Linked DNA regions of Homo sapiens: region 2 is linked to region 1. Evidence: fine-mapped expression QTL. Tissue or cell type: whole blood. Region 1 holds a variant in brackets; the other region holds the start of a gene. All regions are shown on one strand. Distances are from middle to middle.

Region 1 (4,354 bases):
GTGTGTGATGTTCCTCTCCCTGTGTCCAAGTGTTTTCATTGTTCAGTTCCCATCTATGAGTGAGAACATGCAGTGTTTGGCTTTCTGTCCTTGTGGTAGTTTGCTCAGAATGATGGTTGCCAGCTTCCTCCATGTCCCTGCAAAGGACATGAACTCATCCTTTTTTTGGCTGCATAGTATTCCATGGTATGTATGTGCCACATTTTCTTAATCCAGTCTATCATTGATGGGCATTTGAGTTGGTTCCAAGTCTTTGTTATTGTGAATAGTGCCGCAATAAACATACGTGTGCATGTGTCTTTATAGTAGCATGATTTATTATCCTTTGGGTATACACCCAGTAATGGGATCGCTGGGTAAAATGGTATTTCTAGCTCTAGATCCTTGAGGAATCACCACACTGTCTTCCACAATTGTTGAACTAGTTTAAACTCCCACCAACAGTGTAATAGCATTCCTATTTCTCCACATCCTCTCCAGCATCTGTTGTTTCCTGACTTTTTAATGTTCGTCATTCTAACTAGTGTGAGATGGTATCTCATTGTGGTTTTGATTTGCAGTTCTCTAATGACCAGTGATGATGAGGTTTTTTTTTCATATGTTTGTTGGTCGCATAAATGTCTTCTTTTGAGAAGTGTCTGTTCATATCCTTTGCCCACTTTTTGATGGGGTTGTTTGTTTTTTTCTTGTAAATTTGTTTAAGTTCTTTGTAGATTCTGAATATTAACCCTTTGTCAGATGGGTAGATTGCAAAAATTTTCTCCCATTCTGTAGGTTGCCTGTTCACTCTGATGGTAGTTTCTTTTGCTGTGCAGAAGCTCTTTAGTTTAATTAGATCCCATTTGACAGTTTTGGTTTTTGTTGCCATTGCTTTTGGTGTTTTAGTCATGAAGTCCTTGCCCATGCCTATGTCCCGAATGGTATTGCCTAGGTTTTCTTCTAGGGTTTTTATGGTTTTAGGTCTAATGTTTAAGTCTTTAATCCATCTTGAATTAATTTTTGTATAAGGTGTAAGGAAGGGATCCAGTTTCAGCTTTCTACATACGGCTAGCGAGTTTTCCCAGTACCATTTATTAAATAGGTAATCCTTTCCCCATTTCTTGTTTTTGTCAGGTTTGTCAAAGATCAGATGGTTGTAGATTTGTGGTGTTATTTCTGAGGCGTCTGTTCTGTTCCATTGGTCTATATCTCTGTTTTGGTATCAGTACTATGCTGTTTTGGTTACTGTAGCCTTTTGTCTAAGTGAGGACACTTGTTTGTGCTTTCTATAATTTGGACAGCATGATAAGGTAGTTTTACGAAGGAATTTTGCATTTCTCACAAGACACTTTATATATCTATAAGTCACAGGGTTCTCCCCACCCCCCAACCCAGCACAGGGAATTTGAAACTAAATAAGGAAGAAACTAAATAAGGTGAACCAGACTCAATTCAAGTGAATTTCAGTTCTAGGTTTCTGCTATACACACTTTAATGGTGATTTTTAACCATTATTTATAAGTTATTGATAGTTCTGAGGTCTAGTCAAACCTTCCACAGCATTTAACCACAAGATGCATTTAAGTTAGATGTAAAAACCAGAAATCTAACTTGAGACCGACTTTGTATAAGACTAATTGAAAGGTTGATTGTAGATGGAAAATTCATAAACATTTAGTGATAGCTGTAGATTTCATTTCAACATAACACAATGGCAAAATTATAATTCTAATTTACATTAATTTATAAGAATGTTCTGAAAGTTGCAAACAATATCTAGAAAAAGTGATTGTCCCAAAGTTCAGATCCTTCAGTATTAGATACATTGTTTTTCTGTACTAGTGCAGAAAAAAAAACCAAAAGCCATTCATTTCCTGCTGTGACTTGTCCTTCAGAAGGTGGGATAGTTGCATGGAATGACTCATTTCCTTCACAAACTAGAAGTTGCCATTCTAACGAGAAATGGCAGTGTGGAAAGCGAATTAGTAAATGTTAAAGTATGAGTCCTAGGTAATGGGACCTGTTCATTAATTTGGACAGTGCTGTGAATATGTGAGTTACTCATTTTGAAATATACATTGAATTAGATATGATTAATATTCCAGTTGTTAAAAACAGATAAAGATGTCTTAACCTGACATATTTCCTTTCCATGAGTTTTAAATAAGAACCTGAGATCATTTTACTGGGACTATTATAGAAGTAATTTGTTTACGTGATGACTCTGTTCATGAACCTAATAAGCTTGCTTTCTTGGTCATTTTTTAGAGAAGGTTTTTATTTGATTGTTGAATCATAAAGAGACAGGACTCTTGCATTCCAGCTTCATCCTCTGGCTTTTCTGTGATTTTTCCTTGTTCCTCAGTCTCTTCATACATAAAAGAAATACATCAGCAGTGGCTCTGAGATGCAAAAATAAATATAATTGTCAATATTTAAATTGTAAAACTTTAGTAGATTATTCTTATTTTAATTAAAGGAGGAAAATAGACCCAAAATGATTTTAGGAGCTGATTCAGATAAATTGGTCAGGTGGTTTAGAATTTAAATTCATGGTTCTTTTCTACTGAATTTATTGGATAATAATTTATGCATATACAGATAAAT[T/A]TGGTGCACTTTAAAATGTGCTTAAAAAATCTTGTGTTAAGATCCTCTTCTTCCTGAATCAGAGGTCCACAGGCCTATTTTGGCCCACAGAGATGTTTTGTTTGCTCATAGAAAGTGTTGATTTTTCTTTTAAGTTATCAACCTATAAAAATACAGATTTCACCTAAAAAATAGATTTCCAATTACGCTTAAAGAATCATAAGATCCAGCAATGTCAGGTCTTTATCTCTACATAGCAACTGCTGCTAGTACTGAATAACTTTCCCCTTTCAATGGTGCATGTGCCTCAGCACCAACAGTCTCTGGGATGAGACCCCAGTACTACAAATCAGGGTTTTCTCTGTTGACCTAGATGAGAACATTCTGACATTGAGAATAAACAGTTTAAGCATCATTATTAAGTGGTATTTGAATTCAGAGATTAGGCACATGAACAAAACCTAGGGTACTGCTACCTTGAACTTCTTTTAGTAAGAAGCAAGTTCTTCTAACTTTCCTCTACTTTCTTTTAAGTTTGTCCAAAGGTGCATTTGCAAAGGGATTACAAAGACCATGGCAGAACCAGCCCACCCCTCCCTAACACACACATCACACGCTTATTCCACCAGCTCCTCTAATTAAAGGTCTCGCACAGCTCATACGACTCCCAAAGCCAATTAAACAATGCTCACCCTTGTACCTCACAGTAGGTTGGGGAGTAGCTTGGAAAACGCTGTGATTGATATGAAAAGTAGTAACGTATTTTTAAGCACTTTTAGCACTGTTGTTACTCTATGAGGCACAAGCTTTCAACATAGTGGCCTTTTATTTTCTGCGCTTTTGGAGTGTGAGAACACCATAGAGGCTACACGCACCACGGCGTTTCTGTGGGCTGGGAATCAAGGCCTGGAGAAGGGGGTGGGCAGCCGGGAAGTGACAGTGCAGGGAGGGGGAGTTGGCAGCTGTCAAATGAATGCATTTCCCTCTTCTATTATCCTGCTATCCGAATGCTCCATCTATTCATATTCATGGTTTCCATCACTGTGCATAGCACCAAGGCCAGCTTCCTTTTCACATTTCATCTTCTTGTCTTTCTTGGAGTTTCATTTTGATTTACTAAAAATCAGTGGACTGCTTCTAAACAAGGATCAGCTAATAGAAACTGGAGGTAGTTGGTAGAGAATCTACTGGGAGGAATTTATTTACATACAAGAAGTTAAAGCCAAATGTATGTGGTAAGTTAACTTTTTGTTCATCCATTGTTAATTTCATTAATTTCCTACTAATCTAGTGATTAATTCCCCATGTAGGAAGACTATATTCACATTGCTAAGAGAAAGGAATAAGTAAAACATTTTATATTTTAATTACAAAGTAATATATATTTAATTTAGAACATATAAAACTACAAAAATTTAGGAAAGTACAGAAAAGAAATTAAAATCACCTGAAACTAGACATAATTATTAGTAAGTTCTGAGTTTATTTCTTTACAGTCAAATATGTATATATATTTTTTAGGAAATTGTGATAATTCTAGAAATTATTCTCATTGTCTTCTTATATTTGTATAATACTAAATCATAAATATTTTAATATCCTTAAATATTTTATTAAAGCTTTTCATATGTCTATATAGAATTCTATAGTATGGATACTCCATGATTTTTGGGAAGTTAGGTTTTTCTGAATTTAAATATTAAACAATGTTGTGATAAAGACATTCACAAGCTTTCACATCCAAGCTTTGTGGAAATCTATGCTTTTTCCTTAGGAAAATTTCCCAGAA
Region 2 (4,000 bases), 31 kb before region 1:
CTGAAACAACTTTGAACACTGTCATATGTTCTTCCCAGCTCCTGAACTCTGACCTTTTTATGCCTTAGTTCCACTTTCACAAAAAGGGATTGATGTAATGTGCATTTCAGAGGAAACGACTATAGACATTTAGTGTCATTATAAATGTTGAGAAGTATGCTGGCAGAAATTATGCCTTAAGATCATATATGGATTCTTGTATGGTTTGAAATTGCTTAAAAGATATATATGATCTCTAAAATGTGTGTGTATATATATATGATGTCTTCTTATATATCTATATGTGATATATTTATATATATATAAATCTGTGTATATCACATATATAAATTTGCTGTTATTTGAATTGCCATTACCTCAGTGCTTAGGGGAAGCCATGCACGTTTGTTTCTTTTCAGTACCCAGAGTTAATTAACATAAGTTATCACAGAAGCTCCCATAAGCATTGAGACAATTTCTCTATACCTGTGACTATTTAAGGTTTTGAAAACAAAACAGAAGCAGGTAAGGAGGAAGTACGCTTTACTATTGAAGATTTATTAGGTACACATTTAGATTTGTGAACTCACATTGCTTAGGATGAAAGGGACTCTTGAGGATGTCTGCTGTTTGTTAGTGAACTGCCTGTAACAATTACAATTAGCACACACATGAGCACAATGAACTGGGTAGTCAGACTCAGCCAAAATGAATAGAAATAGCCTCTTACCAAATTTACTTTGAGTAGCCCTTGGACTCTGAGCACTGCTGCCCAGAGCAATATGACTGTAGGTCCAAGTTTGTCAATGACTATGCAAATGTGCTTTCTTCGCTTTTACTCTATTGTCATCTGTCTATTACAATGTTGCTATGGTGACACCTTTCCAATATCCCTGTGCTTCTTTGGTATCCTCTAAGGGGAAGCTGTAATGAAGTGGCTTGGCAAAAGAATCCTCTTGGAATTTTTTTTTTTTCATATGCTACTGAAAACCAGCATGATTTTCCTCTTATGGGAAATGTATAAAGTATGAGTTGGAAATGATGGAAATTAATCTGTACTGACTTGGGCAAGGAATGTGAATGTTATTCATTCTGTTCCAAACTACCTGAAAATATTCTCTTTCTGTTCCTACTTTCCAGGAGATAACATCTTAAGGGACACTGAAGCTTGTGCGTGTGTGAGTAGAACACGTGCTGGGGGCTCTTGAGCTCATGAGGGAGGGGCTACATGTCGGTGGGGTGATAACTGTATGCTGGAAACAATGATAGGTGGTGACCCTGGAGCACTTACCATGTGACAGGTGTTATGCTAAGCATGTTGTATGCATTCCTTCATTGAATGACAGCTACCTATATTATCCTCATTTTATAAGATGAGGTAACAGAGCTTCAGAAAGGTTAGACTCAGCTGCTATGGGTCTGTCTGACTCTGGTGTTCTTCCTCTTAAAAACTGGGGCACTTTGGAAATGAGATTCCTCGGTGATGAACAGAAATATTGCTTAGCGGCTGTATTTTTGTATCTGGCAGTTTTCCCATATTTGAGTCTTATATTCACAATCGGTATCTTTACATTACACAAAAGTGACACAGAATTAGAGTCATTTAATCCAGGGTTGATATCATTAAGTCATGACTATTTATTAAATGTTTCTTACAATATCTGAGATGATATTGCAAAAGATGTAAGTGATTTTAGAAGTTCTCACTTCGTAGTTAGTTGCAGAAACCTCTTTTGGAGGAGGGATGTTTTCTCTATATATCCTAATTTCTACTTAATATATTTCCACACCTCTTTGAAGTGTGTAGTAAGAATGGTAAAATGCAGTACTTCGTCATTTGGTACAGTTCAATCAATATGCATTAAGATGTGATCATATGGGTAATAGAAAAATGTGAAAGATCCAATTCTTTTTCTCCAGAAGGCAGGAAGCTCATATTTGATTTCTGTTACTATAAACTATAAAAACGTTTCAAATGTAGTTTACCCGTAACCATCACCCTGCAAGGGTGATATTGCTCCCCGCCAATTTACGGAGGAGAATACTGAGGCTTTAAGGTTGTAGATAGACCAAGACCACACAAGTAGAGAGTGGCGGGCTGTGGGTTGAGCTTTAAAATCCAGGTTCATCCATGACTCCCAGTGTGTTCTAGTAAATCCACTAGAATCTGAGTATTTTCCAATGATTTATGCTCCGCTCTGTGTCAGGCAGTTCATGGTATTTTTCAACAATCAGAAAATCCTGGGGAAGGCAAACTGTTTCCCCCTCTCTAGGTGCCTTGGAAGTGGCCGTTGTGGACCCAGAGATCATCCTTTCTGATCTGACACCTTCTTCACTGCCCTGGCCCAGTGTCTTTTCTGCAAGGCTGGAAGCCCCCTTAGACTGGTCATGTCCCATCTCTTTCCGGAGGGAAGATGATCCCAAAGACGACTTTTCTCTCCACGGTGCTGCCATACCGCAGGCGGCCGCCAGGGGTCCCCGCTCGGCGTCCCCGCGAGACAGTCGAGCCCCGGCCGGCTGCGCGGCGCGCTGGGTGCATGAGGGGGCTGCTCCGGAGCGACGGCGGCTGCAGCTGGAGCCAGGCGCTCGCCCGTCCGCCGGTTGGCTCGCCGGGACCTCGCGCACCGGCGGCAGAGTCCCTTGCGTGGATTGGCAAGCGACGCCCCACCTGCCCCGAGCTCACCATTTTCTTTCGCGCTGGCTGCAGCTGACCCGGCGAAGGGAGCCGACCGGGCCCTGGGCTGGAGGTAAAACCCCACGGTGAGTAAGAACCCGCTCCAAGCTAGGGGAGGCGGCGCAGCCCGGTGGCTGCTCGCTCCCGATCTCGCCCGGGCGGGCGGCGAGGTTTGGGGCGCACCTGGGCGCGGGTGCAAGAAGGTGCGGGAGGCGGCGGACCGGTCTTCTGCCCGCCGGCCACGGGCTTCCGGGGCTGGAGTCCTCTTCAGACCCCTGCCGGCGCCTGGGTTTCTGGCCGGCTCCTCGTGTGCACTTCCCGGCAGGAACAAGGGTCGCCCACTTTCCACCCCGGGATCTTGATTTGTCCTTGATTTGAAAAGATATAAATCAATAAGATCGTCCTTCTTTCGGGGTGCAAGACTCCGAGCCCATCCCCAGCCGCGGACGCCTGCAGGGTGCGTGTTGGGCTGTGGGTGGCGGGAAGACAAACTTTTACAAAAGTGCGCCTGGGCTGGGGGACAACGCTTGGGCGTCCTGATCCTGAGGGAGGAGTCTCGGCTTGGGGCAGCGTAGGGGAAGTCCGCACCGTCAGCCAGGTCGCCCCCGGGGCTGACGATGCCTCACGGAGGTGGGGAGCGTGTAAAGGCCGTACAAATCGCGCTTAACTTTGGGGCCAACAACTGTCAAACATCTGGAATCCCAGCCCCTCCCTTTCCCTGAACTGGGGAAGAAGGTGAAAACCCTTCAAGTTTTCTTTGATTGCCCCTTCCCACCTTCAGACCCCTGCTGGGAGGGTAAAGCGCCGACCCCTGGTGCCTGGCAAGTACCAGAGACTCTAAATCTCTCGGGATCCCCCCCCTCGCGCTCTTTCCTGACCCTCTCCCCTAACCCTCCCCACAGAGATCTCTCTACGCAGCCGACTGAGATCGTGGCGAATGGCCTTTTGTTTCTCCGCGTTTCCCCTATTGTTTGCCTTTCCAACATCTGGCGGGGCTTGGGGAGAGAAGGAAGCCCCTCTGGTCCCCCTCCCCGGCCCCCACGCCAGCTCCGGCAGGGGATCCCAGCTGGGAAAGTGGAGGAGCCCGACCCCAGCGAGGCCGCCCCACCCCGCCCTTGTGGTTAGAGGGCGGAGGGAAAGTTGTTCCTTCCCCGCCTCCGCTGCTGCCTGTGGCCCAGGGCGCATTTCTCAGATCTCAGCCCAGGCGCGCCGCAAAGGCTCAAATCCGAGAAGGTGCTGCTTTCGAGACAGTGGAAGCGCGTTCCGCCCCAATCCAGAGCGTCCAGTGGTTGGTTCCAGAGGATTTCAATCTCTAGCCAAAGGCGTTGGGGCTGGGCCGCTGCTAGG

The links. PIP is the estimated chance that this variant, and not a neighbour inherited with it, causes the effect.
Region 2: it holds the start of MOB3B, and the variant in region 1 is fine-mapped to the expression of MOB3B in whole blood (TOPMed, PIP 0.92).

What each region holds. Positions count from the first base shown.
Region 1 is chr9:27,497,234-27,501,587 of GRCh38, reverse strand. All of the region lies in intron 1 of MOB3B (MOB kinase activator 3B), which reads left to right. Among named protein-coding and RNA genes, the nearest start is that of IFNK, 25 kb to the left of the region's middle. The variant T/A (reference allele first, on the strand shown) is at 2,587.
Region 2 is chr9:27,528,294-27,532,293 of GRCh38, reverse strand. MOB3B (MOB kinase activator 3B) reads left to right here and starts at 2,480. Exons shown (of 4, transcript NM_024761.5): 1 at 2,480-2,739. It overlaps LOC124902107 (dapper homolog 3-like), which reads right to left and starts at 3,838. Exons shown (of 2, transcript XM_047424279.1): 1 at 3,568-3,838; 2 at 1,594-3,274. The coding sequence starts at 3,838. The coding sequence ends at 2,286. RefSeq lists silencers at 2,433-2,732, 3,703-3,752.